Regions from separate parts of the Homo sapiens genome. Here region 1 is linked to region 2. The links come from fine-mapping of genetic effects on gene expression. Tissue or cell type: amygdala. Region 2 holds a variant in brackets; the other region holds the start of a gene. All regions are shown on one strand. Distances are from middle to middle.

The links. PIP is the estimated chance that this variant, and not a neighbour inherited with it, causes the effect.
Region 1: it holds the start of ATG10, and the variant in region 2 is fine-mapped to the expression of ATG10 in amygdala (GTEx, PIP above 0.99).

What each region holds. Positions count from the first base shown.
Region 1 is chr5:81,968,456-81,976,736 of GRCh38, reverse strand. It overlaps ATG10 (autophagy related 10), which reads right to left and starts at 4,714. Exons shown (of 8, transcript NM_031482.5): 1 at 4,431-4,714. RefSeq lists silencers at 4,314-4,553, 4,724-5,053 and enhancers at 4,068-4,623, 4,624-5,181.
Region 2 is chr5:81,722,970-81,730,969 of GRCh38, reverse strand. The region is part of intron 1 of SSBP2 (single stranded DNA binding protein 2); the gene reads left to right. Among named protein-coding and RNA genes, the nearest start is that of SSBP2, 24 kb to the left of the region's middle. The variant C/T (reference allele first, on the strand shown) is at 3,601.

The DNA of each region.
Region 1 (8,281 bases), 250 kb before region 2:
CTAGGCATATTAATGAATTGGTCAGCTCCAGAATGCAAGCAATATGGGGCTGCACCAAAAGGACACAGTTAGAAGGCTTTTGAAGAGTGAACGGCAGAAGCAAGGCCAAGAAAATCTGTGATTGGTCAAAGTGGAGTAGCCTTACTTGGATCATTCCAGTAAAAGTCAGTGGTTAGAGGTTAGTTGATGGTTTCTGATTGGTTAAGCTAAAGTTTCATTTTCCTAGAATACAACCATTTACACTGAGTTTGGTGTAAGTCTGTTTATGTAGGAACCCAGGGCACTGGAGCTTCCTCAGGCAATGGCCTCCCAATTAATTATTTTAACACAGGAAGCTGTTTTTGCTGGGCAATAAATATGTTTCCTTCTTTCCTTTGACCACCATGAAGCTTGGAACTTTGTGGCCTACCTTTAATAACTGTACAACAGGCCGGGCGCAGTGGCTCACGCCTGTAATCCCAGCACTTTGGGAGGCCGAGGCGGGCGGATCACGAGGTCAGGAGATCGAGACCATCTTGGCTAACACGGTGAAACCCCGTCTCTACTAAAAATACAAAAAAAAAAAAAAATTAGCCGGGCAAGGTGGCGGGCGCCTGTACTCCCAGCTACTCGGGAGGCTGAGGCAGGAGAATGGCGTGAACTCGGGGGCCGGAGCCTGCAGTGAGCCGAGATCACGCCACTGCACTCCAGCCTGGGCGACAGAGTGAGACTCCATCTCAAAAAAAAAAAAAGATAAAATAAATAAATAAATAAATAACTCTACAACATTCACAGTATATTTTCAGTATAACTCACCCTAATCACATCTTTCTATTCAAGCTTCATATTTTTATGATCTTGATTCTCTTTATTTTGTATGTTATTATATATTATATAGTTTAAGCTACCTCAAATACTTTTGGAACAAAATTGAGTTTAAATTTAAAACTCTAAGCTACAAAAGTACAATAAAAAACAAAAAAGAAAAAGAAAACTAGATAGTAAGATGGGAAGAAAAAAATATTACACTGAGCCCCCAAATCATCCTGAGAGGTCTGAGACACTTTTTTTTTTTGAGAGGGGGGTCTCACTATGTCACCCAGGTTGGAGGGCAGTGATACCATCTCAGCTGACTGCAACCTCCACCTGCCAGGCTCAAGCAATCCTCCCGCCTCAGCCTCTTGAGTAGCTGGGACCACATGTGTGCACCACCATGCACAGCTAATTTTTTGTATTTTTTGTAGAGACAGGGTTTTGCAATGTTGCCAAGGCTGGTCTCAAACTCCTCAGCTCAGGCAATTTGCCTGCCTCAGCCTCCCAAAGTGCTGAATCACAGGCATGAACCACTGTACCCAGCCTTGGTTTAAGAGACTTTCAAAAAGAAGTATAATACAGTCTTTGCCTTCAATAGTTTGTAACCAAATATTTTTTTATTTTTCAGAATACACATTCTTCTCAAAGTAATCAAATTTTTAAGTAAAGATTCACATTGAAAAGAACATCAGAGAATAATGGATAACAAAAAACAGTGATAAATTGTACAACCACTGTTTAAAGAATTAGTATGGATTAAAATAATTAAAATTGCATATATTACTATGTATTAAGAACTAGTAACAAATCCTCAGAGCAACTTTTTGAGGTAAATTACTAGGATTTTCTTTATTTTATAGATAAGGAAATTGAGACAGAGAGGGTAACTTGTCCAAGGTAACACAGCTGTTAAGTGTAGTAATTTGACCTAAGGAAGTCTGGAACCAGAGCCTGGGCCCTACAGTAGTTAGATTTCAGTTAATCCTTGAATTATAGGAGGATATAGAAAGAAAGAAATAGAAGGGATGGGGCAGTGGCAGTGAACCTTGGAACAGATTGAAATGAGGTAGACCAGTAAAGAACCTGAATGGAGAGTATAGATTGAGGGATATTGAGAATCTGGGGACAGGGTGCAGGAAGTTTACAGTCTTAAAACTCAAAGGAAGCTTGGAGACATAGCTCTCGCCTTTAGTCCTCACTACTCAGGAGGCTGAGGCAGGAGGGCTGCTTGAGCCAGGAGTCACGGCTGTGTAGTGCCTTCTAATTGTGCCTCTAAATAGCCACTGCACTCCAGCCTGGGCAACTTAGAGACCCCACTTCTTAAAAAACCAAAAGAAGAAACCAAAAAACCCAAAGGAGATTCCATTTAAAACAATTGGCAATAGGAAACCAGTGTAGGTTCTTGAGCTCAGAAGAGATGATAAAAAGGTTTTCTCAGAAAGATGTTACATGACAGTGATATGAAATAACCCTAGCTTCAAAGCTACACTCCTATTACTAAGCCCTCTTCCTGGATCCTATAAAACTATGTGATCAGGTAAGCACATTAGAGAAGTCTTGTCTCTGCAGTTTTCAGCAACCATTCCCTAATTAAGATTCCTTCAGGTACAGCTTATTCTCCTATTCTCCATTCCCCAACTTTCTAATTGCTTTATTATACTCAGGCTGCTTGTCCCCTGAAAACATTTGTTTTCAATAGATAATCACCAAATGATCTCCATGGCTTTTTTTTTCTTAAGGTTCCCTGATTATATTTATGATTCAAACACAACCTCCTGGGTCCCAAACACATCTCTAGGTTTCAAAGATAATCAAATCAAGCCCATCTTAAGAAATCTTCTGTAAGCTTTACTCTCCTTGTTTTTCCTAAAGGGCTGCTTTACCTTTCTCAGAAATGTATTAGGCATCAGGAACTACTGTCGACATGTAGTTTGTCACAAAACATTATACATAACTTGAATGGCCCACCATGTACCAAAATCTCAGTTAACCTTATCCTAAATAAAACAGGAGACAAGGGAAATAATCTTTTAACACTCCACATTCAAATGTATGCAATTTAGAACTACTATTTCCACTAATTTCTTCAATTTAAAATATCAATAACAATTTTTAAACTCTGCAATTTGCAAGACTTTAATTTTAATTTCTCAATACTCAGGATTTATTTTTTGGTCAAAGTTCTGTAACATTTCCTCTGGTCACTGTTTAACCTTTCTGAAGCAATGAGAAAGGATTCTACTTGGAGTCCTAAGATGTATTTGAGTACCACACAGGGCCTATGTCCTTCCATCCTGAGAAGCATAAACTTGTTTTTGCCACTAAAGAATAGAGACCATTGTCCAATAACAAAAGTTATAAATATGACTCAAAATGAACCTGTGACAAAGATTTATTAAACTCACAATGGAACAAGCTGAATGGCTTAGTGTGCTCAAAAGCATTTCAGGAACTGAGCATAAACACTGAAGAAAGGATGGTAAGTTTGATAGGTTAGACAGAAAAATGGTTAATATTGGCCGGGCGCGGTGGCTGACGCCTGTGATCCCAGTACTTTGGGAGGCCGAGGCAGGCGGATCACAAAATCAGGAGTTCCGGACCAGCCTGGCCAATATGGTGAAACCCCGTCTCTACTAAACTTACAAAAATTAGCTGAGCGTGGTGGCGGGCACCTGTAGTCCCAGCAACTCGGGAGGCTGAGGCAGGAGAATTGCTTTAACCCGAGAGGCAGAGGTTGCAGTGAGCCGAGATCGTGCCACTGCACTCCAGCCTGGGCGACAGAGCAAGACTCTGTCTCAAAAAAAAGAAAAGAAAAATGGCTAATATCCTACAAGGCACTAAAACTACAACCTTTAGGAGTACTGTATTTTTTTCTCTCCCACTCAGAAATAATTTGCATCTCCATTAATGAAAAAGATGTTAACTACAAAGCCTAGGCCCTAATCAATATCATCATGCCAAACAAAATATAGTCCCCTAGACATCTAAATCATCTTCAGGTGGGCCTGTTAGGCTCCATTTTGACTCTGAAAAAAACATGCTGTCCTTTTGCCTTATTTCCAATACTTTTGTAATTTTTACCGCCACTAAAAGTTTCTATAAATCAGTCAACTATTCCTTTATCATTCTCCGGTCCTCCCCGCCAATTCTTGATTTTATAGGTTTTTTGGGAGGTTTAAAAAAAAAAGAAAGACCTGTTGGCTCTAAATATCAAGTTATTCCTCCTGATACTTAATCTGAAACTTCAAATTAAGTTGGACTCAGCCACTGGAAGCCCCAGTAATTTAATACTGTTTCAACCAAAGATTTGCTATCAGTATGTGGATTTTAAACACAAAGTAGTTACTACCCACTTCGAGGGTGCTTTGGGTACTGGGCCAGGTGTGCTGGTGACACCGTGTGCGCGACGGGGACCGGGTCCCCGAGGAGGGAGTGTCCTCGCCCTTCCCCGCTCGCGGCGGCCAGCACAGGCCTGCAGTTACCGGCGGGGACCCGCTTCCCCGGCCTTTTGTTCAGGACTGGGCTGTTTCCCGCCTACCCGCGCGTGCCCTTCCTCCCTGTCCTAGGAGTGGGGCAAGGACCGTGTGGGAAGCAGAGCCGGGAGGAGACAACCGGCAAGGGCTGTGGGGAATACTCACCCCTCTCCGCTCGGCCCCTGACCCCGCAGCCCAGCCCGGCGAGGGCGGGGCGACGGGGCCAGGGGGAGGAGAGCTGGGGAGAGGGACCCAGCGCCCTGCGAGGCCACTGCCGCGCCGGTGACCCTACGGAACTGAATGATGGGACTGCGGGGGCCTCGAGGGCGGAGGAAGAGCCGAGCCAGCGCGCCCCGAGGCCAACCAGAAGTGGCCGTGGCCTCCTTCAGTCAGGTCCGCGGCCTCCTTCAGTCAGGTCCGCCACGGCCGAGTCGGAGCGTGCGCACTGCGCCTTCCCGCGCCGTGGGGGCCGCCTAGCGCAGGCCGGTGACGTGATCGGCCGCGCGCTCTGGGCAGGGCGGGGCTGAGACCCAGGCCGGGACTGGGAGCGGGTGGAGAGGAGGGAAGCGAGACCTCCCCGCCGCCCGCGACCACCCCCGCCAAGGCCCCGCCCCTCGCCTGGCGGGCAGCTCTCCCCCGCCAACCCCCACCTCCAACCCAACGCAGGCGGTGCCCTCCGCGGAGCACAAAGGCGGCTCGTTGACGGGGGAGCGGGTTACTAGCATCCCCCTAAGAGGTTGGGGAACCATGCCAGCATGCTTACGCTACAAAAAGTCCTGTAAACACCACAATTAAGCACAAGCACGGCTACCCCTTGAAAACTTACGGATGGAGGGAGAAGTTAGGAATTCGAATATTGACAATAGTACCATCTGTGGCACATATCCCAGAGGAGAAAAAAAAAAAACTAGCAGCAAAATTAAATTGGGGCGAAACGATGGGGATAAAGACTAGAAAAAATGTAGGAGTAACAGGGGTAATCGAACTGAAATAGCAGACATCTGAAAGAAAACTAGCATCTGCTCCTTCTAACAACAGAGTTAAATTTGTTGGAAATGAAAGGAGAAAATGCAGGCGAAGAAGTGAAAGGAAAACCTGCCTTCAAACTACATGACATAGTTTTTTGATCTTGTACTACAGTTGTGTAAGATGTCACCATTGGAGGAAACTAGGTGATAGGTACACGGGACTCTAGGTGCTGTAGTATTTTTGCAATTTCCTGTGTCTATAATTATTTCCAAATAATAAGTGTTTTTAAAAGGAGAGAATACTGATCAGTGGCGACCAGGGCAAAGGGCTGGAGGAAGGGGGTGACTGAAAAGGAGCTTGAGAGCTTCTATACCGTGATTGTGTTGGTGACTAAACCACTGTTTGACAAAACCCATAAGAGGTATAAATTTTACTGCATGTGAAATAGTTTAAAACTCAAAATGATGCGACTAATAAAAATGAACTTACACTAACATTTTTTAGCAACTATGGATATAAATTAATTGGTAGCTGCCAATTTAGATTATCCATTTAATTTTTTTAAAAGCACAAGGCAGTGTGTTCTGAATGAGAGCTTAAGTAGACCAGGTGTCTCCATCAACTTTAAGTATTTACCTTAAAAACGTATTTCACAGATGAAAACAAGAATGCGGCTGGGCGCAGTGGCTCACGCCTGTAATCCCAGCACTTTGGGAGCCCGAGGTAGGAGGATCGCTTTAGCCCAGGAGTTCAAGACCAGCTATGGGCAAGGCAGTGAGACCTCATCTCTACAAAAATTTTTCAAAATAACAATAAATTTTTAAAAAAAGAATGCATTGCTTTACATTGTACTCCATATTTTAGAAACACAGTGCACCAACCACCATGTTAATTTAAAAAAAATTTTTTTTGCACTGGAGGTGTTTTAAAGTTTCATAATTCACATGCCAAAAACAAAGAAACTAAAAGAAATAACTCAGTTAACCTCCATGTACTTCCTCTCATCATATCCCTCATGGCAAAGAATGATATTGGCCTGTTTATGTGTTTACCCTACAACACTATAAACTGCTTTAAGGCTACGGTCTGTCATCATAGCATTTCAAGGTTCAAGCAGGGCTCCTGTAGCTCTCCTCTCTGATCGCTGAGGTTCACCGAAAAATCTACTCACAAAGGACAGAGTAATTGGAGGAAATGCATGCAAGTTTATTTAGCATATATACATGAGAACCTTCAGAATGAAGACCCAAAGATACAGGGGAAATTGTAATGTTCATTTGTACATCCAACAAAGTATGGACAGCCATGTAGAAATATGATTGGACAAAAGGGTATGCTCTAATGCTAATAGCCTGAGTGGGGAAACCCAGCAAGGCCTGTCTGTCTAGATTCTTCTTGGACTCTCTGGGCATGCATTCCTTCCTTCTGGGTGTAGGGCGGGACCCTCTCTGCAATGAGGGTCTTAGGACCTACAGTCAAAAAAGGTAGATCAGATAATTTCTTTATGGCCAGTTTTTACAAAGAAAGGCGGGAGAAAATTAAAGTAATATTTCCAGGATTTATGACTGGCTTTGGGGAAAAGAGGTTCTAGTTTCTATGGCCTGCCTAGTTTCTATGGCTAGTGTCAGGGGAGAATGGGACCAAGAGACAGGAAGGCAGGAGAAGGTCAGAGAAAAACTTTTGCTTCTGAGGCTGCTTCTGAGAGTTTCATTGTGGGGTATTATTTTCTAGTCCCAATATTCCTAACTAGTAGTAAGTATTCTTTGAATAAAACAAGGAATTGATCACAAAATTTATTGAACGCCTATTATATTCCAGAAGATTTATATGTACATAGTTAATCTCATAACTTCATGACATACCCATTTTATAATATCTTAATTATTAAATTCTTTTAATACTTATTTTATTAGATTTCTCTGTTTCATTTGGACATGTTGCTCACTTCTAAAAAGTCTTGCTTCCTTTCACTTACGTAAAACCCAGTCCCCTGATTCTCCTTCCAGCTCTGTGGCCATTCTTTTTTTTAAAGACAAAGTCTCCCGCTCTTTCACCCAGGCTGGAATGCAATGGCCTGGTCATAACTTACTGTAACCTGGAATTCCTGGCCTCAAGCAATCCTCCCACCTCAGCCTCCCAAAGTGCTGGGATTACAGATGGGATTACAGATGCGGCCATTCTTTTTTCTCATTGTTTTAGGCTTTTGTTTGTCCATTATACTTTAATGCTCATGTTTCACACAGAGTCTTCTAAAACTTGAAACTTCAGCTTTTTTGTTTTTTGTTTTAGTTTTCTGATACTCATGTAAATTTTTTTTAATTCAAAACAGGGTTATACAAACTGCATTACATTCAAAGTCATTTTCCTTTAACCAATAAACACTTTTATTACCAAAAATTACAAAGCAGTATAAATGTGTCTTTCAAAATATAATTACAGGATTTATTTTAAAATATAATTCATAATATCCTTTCAATAGTATGGTCCTATAAAGGGATACAAATTTAAAGTTCCATGGTAAATGTCTTATTTTCTCAATTTTGTCAGTTCTTATTACTTGCATGCATATATCCTTTCTGCTCATATCCCATAGGTCACATCTATATTCAAGGAAGGAAGAAAATGTAGCATCTAGCCATGGGCTCAGTCAAACCTTGACAGGGTGGGATTGTTTTATTATTAAAAGAAAGAAGAGAAGAATAGATACTAGGGAACAAAAGCTATCTCTACTGCAGCTTATAGTAGGCAGATCTCTTCCACCACCCTCCAGGAGGTTCTTAGGAAAAGATAAATTATATAAAAGAGTTAGAGGAGGTAATCTGATTGGATGGCAGAGATAAGAAACTTGTCTTGAAGCTGTGTGTGCATAGCACTTACTTAAAAGTGTGAGAGAAAAAAACACTAGTAGGCAAAACTATAGAGACAGTAAAAGATCAGTAGTTGCAAGAGTTTGGGGGAAGGGAGGCAAAGAGGGAAGAGATGAATACATGGAGAATAGGGCATTTTTTAGGACAGTGAAACTATGATATATGATACTGAAATAGTGG
Region 2 (8,000 bases):
CTTAAAAATGGTTAAGATTGTAAATTTTCTGTGTGCACAATAAAAATATATTAGAAATTATTTTCTTTTCATTTGCTTATTAAGTACGTTTTTAGTGAAGAATATTCTGGAGGTAAAATGTTCATCATTTGGCTCATCTCTCATCCAATATGAAACTGCTTCAATTTCATCACTTAAAAGGAACCTGAGTTTCTACTTTAGTTTGGACTGAGCTGTAAAAAGTCTTTTCTTTCCTTTCTACCAGATTGTATTTCTTTTTAAAATCTAGTCAATGGAAAATTAAAAGATAAGATATAAATCAGAATTATGACCTATAATTTATATTATGACTTATATTATACCAAGAACAAATGTATTTGAGAATCTCCTGCCTTTTTCGCTGAAGCTCAAGTAAAACTGTAGATTTTTAGATTTTTAGATGTTTTTGACTATGTAAACATTTCAAGACCAGGTGTGGTGGCTCAGGCCTGCAATAGCAGCACTTTGGGAGGCCGAGGCAGGTGGATCACCTGAGGTCAGGAGCTCGAGACCAGCCTGGCCAACATGGTGAAACTCTGCCTTTATTAAAGTTATAAAAATTAGCCAGGCGTGGTAGCGGGCGCCTGTAATCCCAGCTACTTGGGAGGCTGAGGCAGGAGGATTGCTTGAACCCAGGAGGTGGAGGTTGCAGTGAGCCGAGATCGTGCCACTGCACTCCAGCCTGGGCGACAGAGCGAAATTCCATCTCAAAAAAAAAATTCTTTTAAAAGTACACTTACTCTGTAATTTTGGTAATGATGAAGCGTTCATTTTAAAAATAGAGTAAAAAGTACTTGTGATTTATTTTCATGAAACAGGATAGAAATCCCTCATCTCATTTAATTAAAAAAGAAATAACCACTGGTAAAATCTGATCTTTTCCTTTCTCCAATACCTGTCAAGATTTACTTTGTATATCTGTATTTTCTAAAATTGTTACCCTATATCTTTTACATTAAAAATAGATTAATAATTAAGGGTCAATCCTTTAGAATAGGTATTTTAAATTATGTGATTTAGTCTATCTAGTGTATTTGCCTATTTATATAACTATTTATTTTGACCTATCTATATAACCACTTATTTCTCAGTCAACCCTCTGTAAGTGTAGATGTCTAAGTCTAGCTTATATATAACTTACAAGTTATATGAAAATACCACATTGTATCTCATAAATGTATACAATTACTTTTCAATCAAGAATATTAAAAATAAATATAATTAAAGGTTAAAAAAGCAAAAATATGCTGTCCTAGATTTCTCAGTGCTTTTAAAGTATGAAACATGTTCATTTTATGAATCACAACCTAATACTCATAGTGTTAAATACTATGAGAGTAAGCCTTTAAGTATAGAGTATTGAGTTAATACTCCTCAGTTCATGGCATGGTATTATCATTGGTTCATGTCAGGCCTTTCTGCTGTTTAATTGACATTCATTCATTTACTCATTCATTTATTCTCTATACCTGTTCCTCATTTCTACAACCCCCAGCCCCATAGGAAATCATTTAGACCTACCCATTTTGCTGTGTGTATATCCAGTTCCTATTTCTAATTGCTGCAAAGGGGATTTACTGTTTCACATTGTTTTATAATTGCTTGAAAATTCCTATCTTCACGTTATTTCTTTATATTTTTTTAAAGAGAGAAGCCAACCTATTTGAAGGTAGGCTAGTTCAGATGAACTTTTTATGCGCAAATATAACCTAATTCAGTGATTCATAAAAATGAGTAAGTTTAACACTTTGAAAGTATTGAGAAATTGAGGACAGCATATTTATTTTTTAACCCATTAACATTATAATTTTTATTTTTAATATTTTTGATTGAAAAATAATTATATACATTTATGTGGTACAATACGGTGTTTTGATATATGTATGCAGTGTGGAATGATTAAATCAGGCTAATTAACATATCACCTCTCTTACCTATCATTTTTTATGGTGAGACATTTGAAAGGTATTCTCTTAATTTTAAAATACAGAATACTGACTTTTAAGACTCAATAAGTAATTTAAAAATTAAACTTCATTCTCTATTAAACATCAAATTTAGTTTTTCTTTGTTACTGGTTATAGCATTGCATAGGGCCTCAGTTTTAGTAGGGATTCAGTAGATGCGTTGGTTTCATTTAATGCCATACCCACTAATTTGTTAATTGGCTTGGACATTTGCGCAAGTTAATTCATGCTTGGAGCTTTAATATTTTAAAATGATTCAGACATCAATCAAGCAACCAGAATTTATTACAAAATCTGTAAGATATATAGTTTCTAGTTTACATTCTCGATGTTGACAGCTTTCCTCGCCCAAATTATTGCATCTGATCCACACTATTATTGTGTGTGGTAAGCATGTCAGGCATTATATCCATTTTAGTAAAGGAGAAGTTGAGTCAAGGCATTAAGTGGCTTGCACAAGGTTATATGGCTGTTAAGTCATAGTCAGGACTATAACTGAAATTTTCTGACTCCTCGACCAATGTTCTCTATACCAATGTTTTCAAACTCTGTTATAGAAGGAACTGAAGGAGGTGACATAATATGAAATGAGGACAAGAGAGGCCATCTTAGATGAAATGTTTTATTTATTTAAAAAAAGATGCTGCCCTTTTAAGTAAAACTTTGAAAATCATTGCACTGTATTGTCGCCGTTTTTGTTTTGAAATGGAAGTGCTAAGTCAGATTTGTCAATGGTAACTCCAAAAAGGGATAAGAAAAAGTCATCTGTTCCTGAAATGCTTGTTGCATTTACATTATCTATCTTGTCATGTCACTCCCCATTACCTTTAGAATAAAACTTAGACTAACGGTGGTTCACAGGACGCTGAATTATCTGGTCCTTGCCTAATTCTGCAGACACATCTCTTGCTATTTTCCCTTTTATTCCTGATCCCCCATAGCCTTCTTTCAGTCCTTGAATATGCTAGCCCTGTGACACCTCAGGACAGTGTTCCCTTTCCCCAGCCCTTTCTATGGCTGGCTTCTTTTGATCTATCAGGTTCCAGTGGCCTTCCCTGACCATCCTTTCTAAAGTAGGTCCTCCCTTATTCTCCACCCTGTACCTTGTTTCACTTGTATCCTGTAACACAAAGTGAAATTAGTTAATTACTAGTAGACTCTAAACTCCATGAGTGCAGGGACCATGTTTACCATGTTTTCTTTTGAATCCTTAGTCACTTTGCCTATAGTTGGCCCTGGTTAAATATTTATTGAATGAGCAAATGTTGAATGAATTATGAGTTATCAAGAGATGCTCAATTTATATTTACTGTCCTCTGAGAAAAATCTCAAATTATACGCATTTGATGAATATTTCCATAAAATGATTTTAATGCATTAGTGCCTAATAGTTGTAGTCATGATTTAAAGAATGTTGCATGAGATTTTTTTTTTTGAGGTGGAGTTTTGCTCTTGTTGCTCAGGTTGGAGTGCAATGGTGCGATCTCAGCTCACTGCAACCTCTGCCTCCTGGGTTCAAGTGATTCTCCTGCCTCAGCCTCCTGAGTAGCTGGGATTACAGGCATGTGCCACCACTCCCGGCTAACTTTGTATTTTTAGTAGAGACAGGGTTTCT[C/T]CATGTTGGTCAGGCTGGTCTCGAACTCCTGACCTCAGGTGATCTGCCTGCCTCGGCCTCCCAAAGTGCTGGAATTACAGGCGTGAGCCACTGCACCTGGCCCATATTCTTCATATGTGATTAATACCCCCAACAATGTTGTGAAGTTAGTAGTATATTCTACTTTATAGGCAATGCAACAGACTTAGAAAGGTTTGTTGATATTTGCCCAAAGACACTTAGCTAGTAAGTGGCAGAACTGGGATTTGAACTTAGGTCTGTTTGTAACTAAAGTCGGCACTATTTTCACTCTATTTTGCCGCTTCCTAAATTAATGCTTAGGTTCTCTGGAAAATTTGCTTCTGATGAACACTTTCCTTTCCCAATGACGCTGGATAAATGGGGTGTTACTGTAATAAGGTGCTAATTGAATGGCGTACAGAGTAAGTGCAAAAGAAATTAAAGGAGGAAAAGGTATGTGCTGAAGTCATCAGGGAAACCTCATGGAGCAGCTGTGGGACTTTAGTTCATTCAATTAATGCTGTGAAAGTGTTCTGCATACTGGACCGTGTAGGATGAATGGGATATAAATAAATATAGAAGGGAATTGAGGGTATTTTAGTTTGGAGAAACTGCTTAGAAGTGTTGTGGGTATCCTGGAAGCAGTAGGGAGGACTAGTGTGACTGGAAGAGAGGATTTATCTTGGAGAAAAGTGGGATATTTGTTGAAAAAGTAGATGAGGATGATTGGGGGTATATAAACTATATAGAATTTAATTTTCTCTGTGGTTGCTAAGAGCAGTGTCATTGTGGGATACAATAACAGTTTAGGAACTTCAGTTGGTAATAGTATGCAGGTTTTAAGTATAATAGTGCAGCATTGGTAGCACAGTGAATAACAGTGGCAGTTCTGGCCCTGGGCTTGAATTCCACCCCTTTCACTTGCCGGTTTGTGAGCTTGGAATATTATTTCACTTACTGTACTGTTGTTTCTCCTCTGAAATGGAAATTGAACAGTAGAACCTTTGGCCTGATCCCAGAGATTATGATTCAGTGTGTCTAAGGTATGGGGCAGGAATACCCCCTCCTCCCAAATCAGATTTAGTTACATCTCCTATGTGGTCCCGGAGGGCTCTGTATTTGTTCAGTGTTTCTTTTCTGACCTCAGGTGCAAAAAGTTGAATTCATCAAACTCCTCAGATTAATGACAGACTATCAGCTTTTGGCAAGACTCCTCTCTTGTTTTATTTAAAATAGTTCTCATTTATCCCCAGTATTCATTCTAATTCTCTGCCTACATAGATGTTCGTACTAATGTTTTTTTGAATATGTCTGTCTCTTTAAAAAATATATGGTGCTGTTTTATGCACACATATTTTTAATTTATATAAATTATATTGTGCTAAAGATCTTCTGTTTCTTTTTTCATTCAACATGTTAAAATGCCTTTTATGATAGAAAACTTCAAACAGATCCAAATGTAGAGAAAGTATCAACCCACCATGTGTCCATCATCCAGCATCAACAATTATCAGCTCAGAGCTGATCTTGCTTCATATTATTAACCATTCCTCCCCTAGTGCCTCCTCCCCACAACTCCACCTCTGCAAACTGTATTATTTTGAAGCAAATCTGAGACTTTTTAAAACTGTATTTCAGTGCCAAAAACATCAAAAAACCGCTACCCATTTGGATCTCTGTATATCTGTTTCATAACTTGTAACTGCTCTAGGTATGTCAGTGAATGCACTTACCACATCTCTGGCCCTCTGGTGATGGTCACCTAGTTTGTCTGTAATATTCTGCTACCACAGACAACTTTGATTTTCATTTTCATACATGTCCTCTTATGGGCTTTTGGGAGAACTTTGATTTTTCAGAGTGGGATCTCTGGATAATAGGGTATATATACATATACTTCATTTCACTAAGTTTTGCCAACTTGATTTCCAGAATGTCTGTACTAGTGTACATTCTCACTAGGAGTACATAGTAGTTCTCTTTTCCTCCATTTCCACTGGCACTCTGTATTAACTTACATTATATTTTTGCCAATCTTTCATTTGTAAAGTGGTATATTATTTAAATTTTTATTTCTCTGATTATTAGTGAGGTTAGTTATCTCTTCACGTATTTGTTTTCTGTTCTCCTTAAGACCTCCCATTCTTGCTGTTTTATTATGCCTAAAAAACTCTTTCCCCTTATTCACGTGGCTCACTCACTCCATTCAGATCTCTTCTTAAATGTCATGTCCCCAGAGAGTTCTGCTTTATCTTTCATTGTCTTTATCACAACAAAACCTTATATTATGTTATGTATTTATTTATTTTCTCTGCTCAAGTTCCTTGAAGGCAGAGACCTTACCTGTGTTCACACCTGTATCCCTAGCACTTAAAAAGGTAAGTTCTCTATAAATATTTGTTGAATAAATAAACATGAATTGGCTATTTATATCCTTTGTCCATTTTGCCTACTCAATAGGAGCGTCTTGAATATTCTAGACATTAACCTGTGTTGGTTTTAGATGTTGTTATAATTTGTTATTTCTGTCCATCGTAGCTGCGTTTGATAAGGAATCCTTAATTTTCAAGTGGTTAAATCATCACGTCACAACATGTAAATCAACACATTGTGGTTTGTGTTTTTGTGGTCTGAAGAAATGCTCTTCTAACCCGATATTACATATCCCTCTCCATTTTCTATTTGCTTTATAATTTTATATTTTATATTTGGGTCTGTAATTTCTTAGGAGTTTACCTTTGTATAGGCTGTGAGGTGTGGGGGGTGATTTTATTTTTCTTCCTGTAGAATACAAGCAGTTTGCACTTTTCCTGCTGATTGGTAGTACACACTTACTATGTACGAATTATTTCTCATATTTCATTGATCAGTTGTCTATTTGTGTTTAGTATCAATGTTTTTTATACAGTGGCTTTGCACTGTGTTCTAAAGTCTGATAGGGCAAGTCCTCCCCCTTTTAAAAAATTGACTTAGCAACATTCGTAATAGGAACAATCAAGTAGCTAACCTTTAAAAAGAATGCAAAAGATCATTATGGAGTAATTATGAAACTCTATTAAAGGATATGAAAAAAGACATAACTAATAGAAGAGAATTACCATGGGATGACATAATGTTTTAAAGATGCCAGTTCTCCCCAAATTAATTTGTGTATTCAGTGCAACCACAGTAAAAATTTCAGTAAGATTTTTTGCATACCTCAACACACTTACTCTAAAGTTTATTTGGAATTTATTATAAATATATGTTGATTTAAAAAATAAATGTGTGCTTTCATAGTATTATGCTGTGTTTTTTAGTAATTAGTTTTTGCATTCTTATGGATGGGCAGTTGATTGAAAGCAGCAGAGAAGACAGAAGAGAGCAGCAGAGTTAAGTGTTTTGGTTAGAAGTGATAGAAATTGTAGTGGTAGCGCAAGTGGCACCTCAGCAAAGAAGCATAGAAAAGACAGAAGATAGAGAAGTGAGGTTGTTGGATAAATACATAACTCCTTCCTCAACTCTGGGGAAATGAATAGGTAGGAACAGAGGACAAACACTAGTCTATAATATTGTCCCTGTTGCTATGTCTTGGTAATGATATATACCGTGTCTGGTCCAACAGTCTATATGGAGTACTTACTGTCTGGGGCAATAGTATCTATAGGAGGTATTGAGATGTAGCTCAATAATTGATACTTGTGTAAGTAATGATGACTCAGAAATCAGGAAGACCTTTAAATATATTCTTGATGTTTTGTTTAAAGAGGCAGAGAAATGGGTGTTAATAGTTTCAATAAAAAACAGTTAAAGATATGCCTGCACTTGGGTTAATGCGCATCAATTTAGAGGTATCCAGAGCTACTCATTCTCCCAACTTTCAGGGTCAAACTTTTACTCTGTGTGTTTCTTTTATGTACCATTGTGAATACTTACAAGCTGCAGATAGAATAAAACTATTCTTTATGTTTTTATGGGGACTAGAAGCAAGAGAAAAATGGAGTTGGGGGAAATTAATTTGTATACTCTACTAACAACAGTAATCAACTACATTGACATCATTAACTGGTCATTATGAATTTTTCCTCTTCCAGAGAACCAAGAACCTTCTCAAGGGACAAATTACTAAATATATAACTCTTACTAACAATGTATAACAATTTGGGAAGAAGTTATGTAATCTCAAAGAAAGTGCTAACTACTCATTTGTTAACTTGTATAGAAACTTCTGTTATTCAACGTAGTCCTTTTATTCCTAAATGGATAAGCATTAAAAGAGATTTGTCTTAATTTACTTTCAAAAACTTCTTTAATTAGCATAAAGAAAGGAAAGAAGAATAAGAGTTTCTGGCTTTAAGTTAATTTTTCACATGGAGAATATATGTATAAATAATTACAGTATCATGTTAATAGATACTGGT